2 linked regions of the Homo sapiens genome follow. The protein of the gene in region 1 interacts with the protein of each later gene in a pairwise test. Each region holds a gene or a part of one and is shown on either strand. Other genes may lie near its edges.

What was found. The genes of interacting proteins can lie anywhere in the genome.
Region 2: the proteins of NDUFA5 (region 1) and SETDB1 interact in binary tests that used the Homo sapiens proteins (3 or more experiments, as listed by UniProt).

What each region holds. Positions count from the first base shown.
Region 1 is NC_000007.14:123,554,797-123,562,388, reverse strand, and holds the start of NDUFA5 (NADH dehydrogenase [ubiquinone] 1 alpha subcomplex subunit 5), read left to right. Parts: upstream 1-4,570; 5' UTR 4,571-4,593; coding exon 4,594-4,614; exon of another isoform or gene 4,615-4,743; coding exon of another isoform or gene 4,744-4,764; intron 4,765-4,940; coding exon 4,941-4,985; intron 4,986-5,069; exon of another isoform or gene 5,070-7,592. UniProt on the Homo sapiens protein: Accessory subunit of the mitochondrial membrane respiratory chain NADH dehydrogenase (Complex I), that is believed not to be involved in catalysis. Complex I functions in the transfer of electrons from NADH to the respiratory chain.
Region 2 is NC_000001.11:150,957,337-150,964,362, reverse strand, and holds part of SETDB1 (histone-lysine N-methyltransferase SETDB1), read right to left. Parts: intron 5,186-7,026; coding exon 5,016-5,185; intron 3,801-5,015; coding exon 3,172-3,800; intron 2,234-3,171; coding exon 2,205-2,233; intron 1,777-2,204; coding exon 1,644-1,776; intron 1,390-1,643; coding exon 1,224-1,389; intron 834-1,223; coding exon 622-833; intron 369-621; coding exon 280-368; intron 117-279; coding exon 1-116. UniProt on the Homo sapiens protein: Histone methyltransferase that specifically trimethylates 'Lys-9' of histone H3. H3 'Lys-9' trimethylation represents a specific tag for epigenetic transcriptional repression by recruiting HP1 (CBX1, CBX3 and/or CBX5) proteins to methylated histones.

The DNA of each region.
Region 1 (7,592 bases):
AGAGAGGACAAGTCAACACCTGGCTTCAAAGCTTCAAAAGACAGGCTAACTCTCTTGTTACAGGCTTATGCAGCTGTTGAAGCCCATGCTCACTTACCATCCTGAAAATCCTAGGACCCTGAAGAATGATGCTAAATCTAGTCTGCCTGTGTTCTATAAATGGAACAACAAAGTCTGGGCTAAGAAAAAAGAAGATTTCTTTCAAAATATTACTGCTCATTGAAAATGTACCTGGTCACTCAAGAGCCCTGAGGATGAAGATGTACAAAGAGATTAACATTGTTTTCACGCACAACATGCTGCAGTCATCATTCTGCAGTCCACGAGTCAAGGAGTAATGTCCACTTTCAAGTCTTATTTAAAAAAATACATTTTATAAGGCTATAGTTACCATAAATACCGATTCCTCTGACAGATCTGGGTAACATAAATTGAAAACCTTCTTGAAAGAACTGACCACACTAGATGCTATTAAAAAGATTTGGTGATTCATGGGCCAGGTGCGGTGGCCACGCTTGTAATCCTAGCACTTTGGAAGGCTGAGGTGGGTGGATCATGAGGTCAGGAGTTCAAGACCAGCCCGGCCAAGACGGTGAAACCCCGTCTCTACTAAGAATACAAAAATTAGCCGGGTGCGGTGGCAGATGCCTGTAATTCCAGCTACTCGGGAGGCTGAGGCAGGAGAATTGCTTGAACTGGGGCAGCAGAGGTTGCAGTGAGCCAAGATCATGCCACTGCACTCCAGCCTGGGCAATAGAGACTCTGTCTCAAAAAAAAAATTGGTGATTCATGCAAGGAGGTCAAAATATCAATATTAACAGGAGTTTAGCAAAAGTTGATTCCAACTCACATGGATGACTTTGAGGGGTTGAAGATCAGTGGAAAAAGCCATTGCAAATGTGAGGAAAACAGCAAGAGAACCAGAATTAGAAGTAGAGCTTGAAGATGTGACTGAACTGCTGCAATCTCATGATAAAACTTGATCAGATGATGAGTTGCTTCTTGAATGAACAAAGAAAGTGGTTTCTTGAGATGGAATCTACTCCTGGTGAAGATACTGTGAATATTGTTTAAATGACAACAAAGTCTTTATAATATTTTATAAATTTGGTTGATAAAGCAGCAGCAGAATTGAGAGGACTGATTCCAATTTTGAGAGTTCTTCTGTGAGACAAGTGTTATCAAACAGTGCCTTCTGCTACTGACAAATCTTTTGTGAAAAATTTCTGCAAAAAGGAAGCTGGGATTTTGATAGGAATTGTGATGAAACGCTACATCAACTTGAGTATTGCCATCTGACCAATATTGACTTCAAATCATTAAATAAGAAATGTCTATTTATTTAGATCTTTAGTATTTCCAACAATATTTAATACTTTTCAGTGTACAAGTGTTACACTTATTTTGTTAGATTTATTTCTTTTTGATGCTATGGTAAATAGAATTGTTTTCTTAATTTATTTTCAGATTATTCATTGCTATAATAGACTAGAGCATATTTTTGTATATTGATTGCTATGGACTATGTCCCCCAGATTTCATATATTACAGCTCTAAACCTCAATAAAATGGTATTTGGAGATGGAATCTTTGGGAGATAATTAGGTTTAGATGAGGTCATGATGGTAACAGTGGCCTTATAAAAAGGGACACCAGAGATCTTGCTCTCCACCCTGACCCAACCCCAAGCACACACGAAAAGAGGTAAATATGAGCATACCATGAGAGGGTAACCAGTATAAGCCAAAAGAAAAAGCCTCAGAATGAAATCTGTCTTGCTGGCTTTGGTCTTAAACTTATCAGCCTTCAGAACTGTGAGAAATACATTTCTGTTGTTTAAGCCACCTCATCCATAGTATTTTGTTATGGCAGCCTGAGCTGACCCTGATAGATCACGTATAATGTAACTTTGCTGAAGTTATTTGTTTTAATTGTATGTATGTGTGTATTCCTTAATAATCCTATATAAAAGATTATGCAACTGTGAATAGAGATAGTTTTACTTTTTCCTGTCTCTTCTGGATGACTTTTATTCATTTTATTTTCTTGCCTAATTCCCTTAGCTAATATTTCCAATATATTGTTGGATAGAAGTGGTGAGAGTGGAAAAATATTTGTCTTGTGAATGATCTTAGCAGAAAAGAATTGCCTTTCACTCTTAAGTATGATGTTGTGGGGTTTTTCTAAGCATCTTTATCAGGTTGAAAAATTTCTCTTCTTTTCCCAGCTTGTTGTGTGCTTTTATCATGAAAGCATGTTGAAATTTGTCCAATGCTTTTTCTGCATCTATTAAAATTATCATATAGTTTTTGTCCTGTATTCAATGGTACATTAGATTAATTGATTTGGGGATGTTAAACCAACTTTGTATTTTTGAAATAAATATCATTTATTTGTGGTGTATAATTTTTTTTTCATATGCTACTGAATTTGGTTTGCTAGTACTTTTCTGAGTATTTTGTGTTTATTAATAAGGGATATTGGCCTGAAGTTTTATTTTCTTTTTTCTTTCCTTTTTTTTTTTTTTTTTTGTGAGACGGAATCTTGCTCTGTCACCCAGGCTAGAGTGCAATGGCCCAATCTTGGCTCACTGCAACCTCTGCCTCCTGAGTTTGAGTGATTCTCCTGTCTCAGCCTCCAGAGTAGCTGAGATTACAGGCACACACCACAAGGCCTGGCTAATTTTTGTATTTTTAGTAGAGAGAAGGTTTTGTCATGTTGGCCAGGCTGTCTCAAACCCTTGACCTCAGGTGATCCTCCTGCCTCAGCTTCCCAAAGTGCTGGGATTACAGGCATGAGCCACCAGGCCCAGCCGAAGTTTTCTTTTCTTGTTGATTTCTTTGTCTGGTTGGAATCAGAGTCCACACCTGGCTGAAGTTTTTGTTTCTTGTTGATTTCTTTGTCTGGTTGGAATCAGAGTAATACTTGCCTTATAGAATTAGTTGTTAATTGTTTCCTCCTCTTCTATATTTTGGAATAGTTTCTTAAGTGTTATTCTTTAATTGTTCAGTGGAATTTACCAGCGAAGCCATCTGGACCTGTGCTTTTCCTTCTGGATAGGTTTTTTTTTTTTTCTTGCTAATTCAATTTCTTTAATTATGTTAGATCTAGTCAGATTTTTCTTTATGCCTTCTTGAGTTGATTTAGGTAGTTTGTGTTTTTCTAGGAATCTGGCCATTTTATCTACTTTATCTTTTTTAAGCATAGTTGTTCATAGTATTCCTTCTTATTCCTGTTTATTTCAGCAAGGCTATTAGTGATGGTTCTTTTATTCTTGCTTGTATTAAATCTTCTCTCTTTTTTTTCTTAGTTTCACTAAAGGTTTGCCAATTTTGTTGATCCTTTTAGGGAACCAATTCCTGGTTTCATTGATTTTCTTTATTGATATTCTGTCTCCTTCTTTTCTAATCTTTAATATTTCCTTTCTTCTGTTTGCTTTTGGTTTAGCTTTCATTTTTTCTAGTCTCATGCCTCTAATGAAAGGCCTCATCTCTTCCAACTCATTCTCTTCAACTGTTGCCTAAGTTGTTTGTATATCTGAAACATAAATTTGATGGTGTCACTTAGAAGCTTAAAAGTCTTCTCATTGTTCCCATTCCTTAAAAAGTAAAATTCAAATTTTGTATAATGGCAAACAACACCTTTCATAATCTTAACCAGTTTACCTTAACAATCAAACCCACCTTTCCAATCACATAAAATCACCTGGAATTTATATATACATTTTTAACCTCTTTTCCTTTGTACTTGTGTTTTCTCAATTTGTTCTTTTCTCCTACTGACTTTTTAGAAAGTCACCCACGCTTTTTAGTTATTTCCTTTTCCCTGGTACCATCACACTTTGCATCAACTTCTTTTAGAACAGTTACCAAATTATTTATTAATACACGCCTTCTTCATTATTCTTTGAATTCCAGGATGTGAAATCCCATTTTAGAAATTATGTCCCAGTAACTGACACATAGTGAGTGGTCAGTGTTTGTGGAGGTAGGAAAAAGTGGTATGGTCTGATATCATTTCATCTGGAAATAAGATGATGTATTTCAGCCAGTGAAATCGAAAAGAGCGATGGAAAATGACCTCACACTCCATAGGGCTTTGGTTCGTAAGACACAGAGAATACTGATATCCTTGTGCGAAGAACTAACTTGCTGTTGAGAGATCAATTCAGAGGATGCTCAAGCTCCGTTATCACTTTCATTTTACTAAACTGAGAAAGGAAGGTTGAGGAATGCATCAACGGTTAAGCACAGTGCAGGTTCCTACAGCGACTGGAGTTTTTTGGTAGTTGGGAGTGTTTCCCTCAATCTTTGGGCAAGCCGTCAGCAGTGGCAGGAACAGGAACAGACAGCTGGGAAACCCTTTCTTTCCCCAATCGTCTTCTAGCTTAGCTTTAGGCTTGTATGCCCATCGCGCATGCGTCAATTTTTCTCTTTTAAGATGGGCGGGGCAGAGTCTTTGCTCCTTTGGCGATCCTGAAGGGGTGGAGCTAAGCTGTTTCCAGGGTGACAGAGTGGCGACCTCGGTGGTCGATTGAGCAGGTCTGAGAATTGTTCCCAAAGGGTTGTGCGTCACCGAGTCGTTGGCGCTGTCATGGCGGGTGTGCTGAAGAAGGTGAGACGAATGGAGGTCACTGTTGGAATTTAGACTGTGGGGGTAGACTCAGTCCGATAGCCCTACTTCCCGCGGGTGTTGACCCCTACTGTCGCGGGCTCGGCGGTGCTTTTCGGGGACTCGTTCTGCATGCCTTACCGGGTAGGGCAGGTTAGTGGTTCCGCTCCGAGAGTCAGGAAAAAAGCTCCAAACAAGCGAGACTGAGAGACCAGTAGCTGGCTTTAGACCAGTTTTAGCCGGGGGATTCGTGGTTTTGTATTTCCTTAGCGTGCTGGATGTATGGAAACCGTAGTAAACAGCATGAATCGTGTTTTGTTTTTGAACAGACCACTGGCCTTGTGGGATTGGCTGTGTGCAATACTCCTCACGAGGTATGTACCTTTGTTCTTTCTTCGTTCTTGAATTCCCAAGGAAGACTAAATTCCTGTCACTTTGCTTATTGCAGGGTTAACGGGATACAGATGTTTCAAGCCCTTAATTACAAGCCGCGTGAGCTCTTGAGACACGGGCGCTGTCCACCTACTTCGTTGATCCGATGTCACATTTTTATTTATTTTTGCCATGACCTCTTTATTAAGCCAGTTTTCTTGTTGACTTTTTCCTTGACATTTTCATGGCTTCACTTGTGCTTGCTTCTGTCAGCGCCATCTCAAATTTATATCTCCGTTTTCCATCTTTTCTCCTTGCCTTACCGTTTCTGCTTAGGTGCGTTGGATTACATATATTTAGGCTTACTAAAGGTACTGCCCCCTTTTCCTTCTGTTAGGTCTTTTCCATCTGTATTCACGAATGTTTTCATCAAAAAAACCCACAAAATTTTTTTATTCTTCTTGTCCCTTCTATAATCACACCATTTCTTTGCTTCACTTTACAGATAACTCAAAAGAGTTATCTCTATTTTCTCCAATTTCTTTCTTATTCACCCTTGAATGCACTCAGTCACCCTTGGCGTTTTTCAAGTTCACCAATTATCTCCATGCTGCCAAATCCAATGGTCAGCTCATATTTCTCACCTTCATTGACCTAATAGCAGCGTTTTTTGACACATTTGACACTTTTTCCATCACGCTCTTTTCAAGTTCACCAGTTATCTCCATGTTGCCAAATCCAATGGTCAGCTTATGTTTCTCACCTTCATTGACCTAATAGCAGCGTTTTTTTTTTTTTGACACATTTGACACTTTTTCCATCATGCGCTTTCTTTACTGGGCTTCAGGACTCCCCCAGTCTCCTGATTTTTTCCCCCTACTCTTTGGCTTTCTCTTTTTCTGGTTATTTCTCTTATGCCCACTTTTAAAATTTGAGTTAGTCAGGATTTAGTTCTTGGACCTTTTCTTTTGGACCTGTACTCTGTCACCAAGAGAGAGCAAATCCAAATAGAGAACGGTTTTAAATACCACCTATACACTGACAACAGATTTCCATGTAAAGCACTGACCTCTTCCTTTATAAAAGTCCTGAATATTTAATTGCTTAGTGGGCATCTCTATTTGTATGTGTCAGACAGGCAACCCAAACTTAACATGTCCAAAATGGGGTTCCTGATCTTCTGCCTAAAACCTGCTCTTCTCTCAGTCTTGCTCATCTCAATTAATGGCAGCTCAATTATTTTGACTCAGGTCAGAAACTTGAAATCATCTTTGATTCCTTCCTTTCTCTTACACTCCACATTTGTTATTTCAGTAAACCCTCTAGGTTCCACCTTCAAAATATATCTTGATTTTGACAACATCTCACTACCTCCTCTGCTACTACCCTCTTCCTCAGTCACCATCATCACTGATGTGGATAATTGCATTCACTTCTTAACTGCCTCTCAATGCTTGTCACAGCCTCCATTTGGTCTTTTTTTCCAGCCAGGCTACTAGAGTTAGTCTGTTAAAATATGAGGTAGGTCAGATCTCTCCTTTCCTTAAAACTAATGGCTTTCCATTTCACTCTAAATAAAGACAAGTTTCTTACTGTGACCCTCTGGTTCACTATTCTACTGATTTATTTTGTTATGTCTCTACTAGAATGTAGGTTTCATGAAGGCAGGGATTTGTAATTGTTTCACTGCTAGAACTCTGTCACATAGTATGTGCTCAGTAAATAGTGTTAGTTGAATGAGTGTCTTGCACTTCCTATGATTTCATAATAACTTTATTGTCATTGATGTAAAGAACTGAACTCATGGTTTTTCCCTTCTAAATATATTTCTTCCTCTGTGGGCTGTATTTTTCTTGATAGTTTCAGATCTTTCTACTCCCTAGGCTGGGAATTTGGACATCATAGTTGGTATTTCTCTTATACTTGTACTCTCATATTCATTCCAATGATGATTTTTATTTTTATTTTTTTTGCTGATCCTTTTCTATAACAGCTCTCCAGTCTGACTTCTGTTTACTATTTCTATTGTTACTACCATAGTTCAGGTCCTTGTTCTTGTTTAGAGAATTGCAACAACCTCCTTACTGGCCTTTCTGCCTTGTTTCTCCTTCAGTCCTTTTAACTCACTACAATGAAGCTAATTTTCCTAATCTAATCATATGATTTTCCTAAATCTTTTAATTGTCCACAGAATAAAGCCCGAATGCTTTAACTTGGAATGCAGAACCACTTATAATGTGACATTTTCTCTAACTTTATCTCCTATGCATTTCCTTATGTGTCCTGTACAGCAGTATATTCCAAAATCCCCAGTGGATGTCTGAAAACCACATATAGTACCAAACTGTATATATGCTATGTTTTGTTTCATACATACCTATAATAAAGTTTAATTTATGAATTAGGCACAATAAGAGATAAGCAGGCTGGACGTGCTGGCTCACGCCTGTAATCCCAGCACTTTGGGAGGCTGAGGCGGGTGGATTGCTTTAGCCCAGGAGTTTAAGACCAGCCTGGCCAACATGGCAAAACCCCGTCTCTACAAAAAATGTGGAAATTAATCAGGTGTGGTGGTGTGCACCTAGTCCCAGCTACTCGGGAGGCAGAGG
Region 2 (7,026 bases), on another chromosome or scaffold:
AAAGAAGACGTCCTCTGCATTCAATGGCCCCACAGCAACAGAGTAGCTCCTTGCCTTCCACACTGCCCACCTCGTAGTTGTAGTCCCAAGTAAGTTCTGTCCCAGCCCGGATTCTTCTGAAGAGGAAGAAAAGGATGGTGTGTGGCAAAGACAGCAGATAACCCAGGCACTTGGGGTTACTGAATATGTAGGTGGAGTTGGATCATGAATGGAGGAGGGGCCCTTAGAACTTCAGTGGTCCTTGCCCCTCCCCAGTCATCCCCTTTCCTGACTCCTTACTTGCTGGCAAAGAAGGCCACCCAGGGGAAGCGAAGATCATGGGTATCCACGAAGACATTCTGGACAAACAGGTTGGGGCTGCAACTGTGCTGTAGGTTTAAGGACAGGATCAAATAAGAACCAGGGAAACTGAACCTGGCTTTGCAGGGAGAGTGAGAGTTGGAAGAAAAATGATGCCATCTGACCCTCCCCATTATAATAGATGCTTTGAAAGAAAGCTACCTCTTTAAGATCCTTTGAGATCAAGAGTTTATAACAAGAAAAGGGCTTATAGAGTATGTTAAAAGAAATCTGAGGACCATGGGATAATCCAGCATCTAGAGGTGGGGAGAGGGGTCTCACGTTGAGGTAGCGGCCCAGGTTGCCTTCAAGCTTGGCATCAATGATGTAGCAAGACTCCTCGCCATCATAGAATTGGCGTGTGTTCTTACGAACAGGTGCGCTCTCCCCCTTGTCCACAGAGGCCATGTTGGTTGATTTAATTGCAATCCCATGGGTTGATTTAAGAGCAAAGCCTCGGGTTGATTTTACTGCCACTTGACGCTTCATTGGACCTGGACAGGAGGGAGAATGGGGTCAGGACCCATCCCAACTCATGAACAGACATTCTATCATGAATGGACATTCTACCCCTATTTCTCTCCCAACATTGCAGCTGAGAAACACCAATAAGCTGGAACTCAAAGATCCTAAGTAGCAGGTTTTTTTTTCAAGCATAATTAGATCTGCTAGACAAAGGAGCTGAGGGGAAAGAGTAAAAAAATGGAAATGAGAGAGGATGTGTCAAACAATAGTTTAGCTTGGAGTCAGAAAGCCCTCCCAGAGATGCTCCAATTCTTAGGATCTGAATTTTTACCCACTACTTCTTTAGCTTCCTTAAAAAATGCTCTATCCCAAGTTTCTTACTATTTCTTCCCACCATTCCCAAAATTTTTCCAGGCTACCAGTCATGTTCTTCTTGTCCTCAAAGTCATCCCCTTCAGAGCCAGAGGATATGGTCTGGATATCATCACTGTCAACCGCTGTAGCCGAAGTCTGACCAGCAGTGGGCTTTCGGCTGGTCCCACTTTCCCCCTCACTTTCTGTGCTGCTGGACAGTGTCAGGACATCCTGGGGAAGCAGGAGGGTAAGAAGTAAGAGAAGTAAATGGGAAGGGCTCCTTTAAGTCCTTGCTGTTACCCACGGTTTGGCAGGAAAGGGCGGTGGCAAGAGGAAGATTAGATGCTGGATGAAAGAAAATAAGGCAGGAAGTCAAGGCTAAAGAAGTAGGAGAAGACCTAACAGTAATTATAGTGAAGGACTTGATGAGGTGACAATGGCCCATTTTCCTTTATTAGACTCTGAATAAGCTTGAGGTGACTTACATCAGGGTTGGACTGAGCAGAAGCCATGAGTCTTCGGCTTTGATGCATACTAGTCTTACTAGGTGGGCGGCGAAGTCCTTCAGGCTTCACAGGAGAAGGATTGTAACCGTAATTTCGAGAGCTTTCAGTAACTCTAATGGGAGGGGAAGGAATGAAGCCAACAGGTTACTGGCTGTTTCTTAGGCTTCTAGCCTAGGTTTGAGAGAAGGCAGATTTGGAGACAGGTCAAAAAGACAGGCACTGGGCTGGACACGGTAGCTCATGGCTGTAATCCCAGCACTTTGGGAGGCTGAGGATCCCCTTTGGGAGCATCGCTTGAGCCCAGGAGTTCAAGACCAGTCTGGGAAACATGGTGAAACCCCGTGTCTACAAAAAATACAAAAACTAGCCAGGCATGGTGGTGCACACCCGTAGTCCCAGCTACTAGGGAGGCTGAGGTGGGAGAATCTCTTGAGCCTGGGAGGGGGAGGTTGCAATGAGCTGAGATTACGCCACTGCACTCCAGCCTGGGTGACAAAGCAAGACTCTGTCTCAAAACAAAACAAAACAAAAGGCACTTACACTGACATCTTGTTTCGGTCGTCAGTGTCCTGGAAAAGAACAAGTGAAGGGTTAAATGCTTTCACAGCCTCGGGTAACAAGTCCAATAATCAGACTTCAAATGACCTCCACAGATAACATCAGCCAGTGACAGGTACACATTCTAAAGTGGGGTGGGTAAACCACTCTGCAACTTGACAGAAATCCTCACTACACTCCCTGGCTGGAGCCTTTAAGCCTTCTCAGTGATGGGGCTTAATGCTCATGGAAAACACCACGAGCAGGATTACATCAACCAGGGACAGTTTCACCATCTGTAATGTGGAAAGCAGCATAATCATCAAAGAGATACTTAAAATCAATTCTTGTTTCTCTACTTTAGTAGAAGGAAACAATGATGTGAATAACTTGAAACAGCATTTAACATTAAAAAATCACTTATAAATCTTTCATTTTGTAATTAATCAGATACTTGTCCACCCTCTACCACCAGGCAAGTGGATTTTAAAATAATTTTTTTTTTTTTGAGACAGAGTCTCGTTCTGTCACCCAGGCTGGAGTGCAGTGGTGCGATCTCGGCTCACTGCACCTCCACCCTCCAGGTTCAAGCGATTCTCCTGCCTCAGCCTCCCAAGTAGCTGGAAATACAGGCATGCACCACCACGCCCGGCTAATTTTTGTATTTTTTAGTAGAGACGGGGTTTCACCATGTTGGCCAGGATGGTCTCCAACTCCTGAACTTCAAGTTATCCACCTGCCTCGGCCTCCCAAAGTGTTGGGATTACAGGTGTGAGCCACTGTGCCCGGTCAATAATTTGGTTCTTTAAACAAACACTAGGAATGTGCTAGTTAGGGGGAGAGATAACGAGGTGGCCACAGAAATATCCATCAAGTAGAATAATCTACATGCAAAGACTCATGGTGAGACTGCATTGTTACTGCACCAAAGTTAAAGCCATAGCTCTCAGAGTGTTCTGCCACTGCTTACCTCTTTCTTGGCCTGTTTGATGTCTCCCTCATCCTTGATGCCTAGTCCTGAGGTGGAGGCCTTCTCAGCCTCCATTCGGCTTCCCCCAGCCCGGCCCTCCCCACCTTCATTAGTCTTGAAGGATGAATGGCTATCAGAGTCAGCAAAACCACCTTCACTGACACTATTGCAGCTCAACCATGAGGCCACCTTGTTCTTGGGTGTCTCTTCGGAGGAAGGTGGATTGCAGCCACCTACAGGGATTGAGGGAGGAACAGGAATATGTGGGGGTCCAAGATCTGGGGGGTGGGAGTCCTTGGAAGTTGTCTCAGAGAGTCCGTTCTCTTTCTGGCCCCGGGTCTGCCTCCGGGTAGCATAGCTCCGCCACACTGAACTGGTGCTGAAGTCCTCATCCTTACAGAAGTTATCATCTGAGCTATCATCATTGGACTCTTCAGGGTCCTCTGTACCGCTGTTGCCATCTTCCTGGTCCTTCAAGTCTACACCACTGCTGTCAGAGGAACAGGGGGCATCACTCTCATATCCTTCTTTGAAGTTCTCCACGCTCTCGATATGGTCCAGATTTGCAAAGTACTCATCACCCATTTCCAGACCCTCCTTGTCTGCAAAGTCATCTGTCAGGATTTTGCCTGAGAATGAAGAGAATTAAAGGCCTTCTAGGGTTATGGGGACCTATTAGTTTTTTTTTTTGTTTGCTTTTTTTTTTTTTTTTTTCCAGATGGAGTCTTGCTCTGTCACCCAGGCTGGAGTGCAGTGGCGCGATCTCGGCTCACTGCAACCTCTGCCTCCCAGGTTCAAGTGATTCTCCTGCCTTAGCCTCCTGAGTAGATAGGACTACAGGTGCACGCCACCATGCCTGGCTAATTTTTTTTGTATTTTTGGTAGAGATGGCGTTTCACCATGTTGGCCAGGTTGGTCTCGAACTCCTGACCTCAGGTGATCTGCCCGCCTCAGCCTCCCACAGTGTTGGGATTACAGGTGTTAGCCACCGCACCCGGCCACGGGGACCTATTAGAAAGAATAAGGATTATTCCATCAATACCCGCTCTACCAGCATATAGAGTCAAAAAGCCTCCATTCTGGTCTCTCATTTCTGTTTTTTTTTTTGTTTTGTTTTTGAGACAGAGTTTCGCTTTTGTCACCCAGGCTGGAGTGCAGTGGCATGATCTCGGCTCACTGCAATCTCTGCCTCAAGGGTTCAAGTGATTCTCCTGCCTCAGCCTCCCAAGTAGCTGGGATTACAGGCATCCACCACCACACCTGGCTAATTTTTGTATTTTTAGTAGAGATGGGGTTTCAACTATGTTGGCCAGGCTGGTCTCCAACTCCTGACCTCAGGTGATCCACCCACTTCGGCCTCCCAAAGTTTTGGGATTACAGGCATGAGCCACCACGCCGGCCCAGTGTTTCTCTTTGATAATACCTCCCTTTGTATCTTAACTATGAAAGTATGGAGAACTTACTGTCATTTTAAATCTTGCCCTTTCTGTCTTTCCATTTCTTCTACTTTATTGAAACAGAGTACTGGGCTATGCTAAAAGATCTCTGAGTGGAGTGACATGGGAGAAAATGATACACTGGACTCTATAATCATGTCTGTTCTCTGAAATATCACCATGTCCAAAATTTCATCCCTTTTCATTCTCTTATTTGTGAAACACTTGTGTCCCTCTCTGGTCTAGCTAGACAGGTACATCACTCATCACGTTCTTTGTAGAAGTCCCTGGCCTCCTCTTACTCCAGTTCACATGTCAAGCACTTTCTTCTTATGTTCAATTTGTCTCTGGTTCAATTCCCTACCATGTCCCAGTCTCAGGAAACAACCCTTATATTTTATCACCAACCTGCATAAATACAAACAAAAGAGCCTTTGGCAATGTCATCCAAGCAGCGGATACCCCAGCCCTTGTTCTGTGTCTTGAATAGCTGTAGCCGAACTTGTAGTCCATGTTGCACCAACCGGTTTGTGCACATGTTTGGGTCACATTTGCAGCGTTTGTTACACTCATATACCCTGGGAGGAGGTTAGAATAAAATCAATCACGGTATGATCACTAGAGCACAAAAAAATCCATAAAACTATTATAATTCTTAAGCTATCATCATTTATAATGTGTTGTGGATAAAGATTAAAAATTAGGTAATGATCTAAGTGAGTGGATCTATTGAACCATCTATGCTCTTTGATTCATTTGGAAATGTAGCCCAAGGAAAAAATTTAGAGGGCGGAGAAATATTTATAAAGATGTCTATAGCAAGACAGCTCATAAAAGTGAATGCTAGAGTGCCTAACACCTGGAGAAAAGCTAAGTAAACTATAATGGGAATACAGATTACAGAGCCATTAAAATAAGCACTATATGGACGGTCAATTTGTAGAAATAGATGCACAAAATAAAGACATGTGAGAAATTCCTGGTGAGGTTTCTTACTAACAACAGCAAAAATAATAATAATAATAAAAATAAATAAATGTGAGAAAAACAGAGGCCAACATAACAGATACGAAAGGGAATAAAGAGATAGGAGGAACTGTGACTAATGTTCATGGTAAAGTTGATTTTCATTCTTTCATTCAGTAAACAATTATTAAACACCAAGAGCTCTACTAAACACTGGAAACATAACAATGAAAAAGATCGTGCTGGGCGTGGTGGCTCATGCCTATAATCCCAGCACTTTGGGAGGCCAAGGTGGGTGGATCACGAGGTCAGGAGAGTGAGACCATCCTGGCTAACACAGTAAAACCCCGTCTCTAATAAAAATTAAAAAATTAGCCGGGTGTGGTGGCATGCATCTGTAGTCCCAGCTACTTGGGAGGCTGAGGTAGGAGAATTCCTTGAACCCAGGAGGCGGAGGTTGCAGTGAGCCAAAATCAAGCCACTGCACTCCAATCTGGGCGACAGGGTGAGACTCTGTCACAAAAAAAAAAAAAAAGAAAAAAGAAAAAAAAGAAAAAAAAAAAGGTCATAATTTCTACCCTCAGGGAGCTCTTTTTTTTTTTTTTGGAGACAGAGTTTCGCTCTCATTGCCCAGGCTGGAGTGCAATGGCGCAATCTCAGCTCACAACCTCCACCTCCCGTGTTCAAGTGATTCTCCTGCCTCAGCCTCCCAAGTAGCTGAGATTACAGGCACGCGCCACCGTGCCTTGCTAATTTTGTATTTTTAGTAGAGATGGAGTTTATCCATGTTGATCAGGCTGGTCTCGAATTCCCGACCTCATGTGATCCGCCTGCCTTAGCGAACCAAAGGGCTGGGAGTACAGGTGTGAGCCACCGTGCCCAGCCCAGGGGAGCTCATATTCTATCTAATTTAAGAATTTGGGCCAGGCGCAGTGGCTCATGCCTGTAATCCCAGCTACTGAGGATGCTGAGGTGAGAAGATCACTTGAGCTCAGGAGTTCGAGGTTTCAGTGAGCTATGATCATACCACTGCGCTCCAGCCTGAATGACAAAGCAAGTCCACCCCATCTCTGAAAAAGAAAAAAATTTTAATTATTTTTAAACAACCATTAAAGGTAATCAGAGGGATCTAGCACATACCAACATTAAAGGAAGATAACACAGTTATACTAAGAAAACTAATTGTTTCAGGTAACAATGTTTTTGCTCTATTTGCCCAGTGTTAGAATTTTACTTATTTTCTTGGTATGTAAAATCAATGGAAGAAATTTACTTTGGAAATGTATCAACAGCTCAGTTAGTTCACGATTTTAGTCATATCCTCTCTCCAGATAAAGATGGTAAGAGCAGCTTCTAGTTACTAAGCATATACTTTTGTGTTTGGCATTGTGTGAATGCCTTATATATACATATTCTATCCTTAAAGCTGCCCTAATACAGGTGGTGTTTTTTC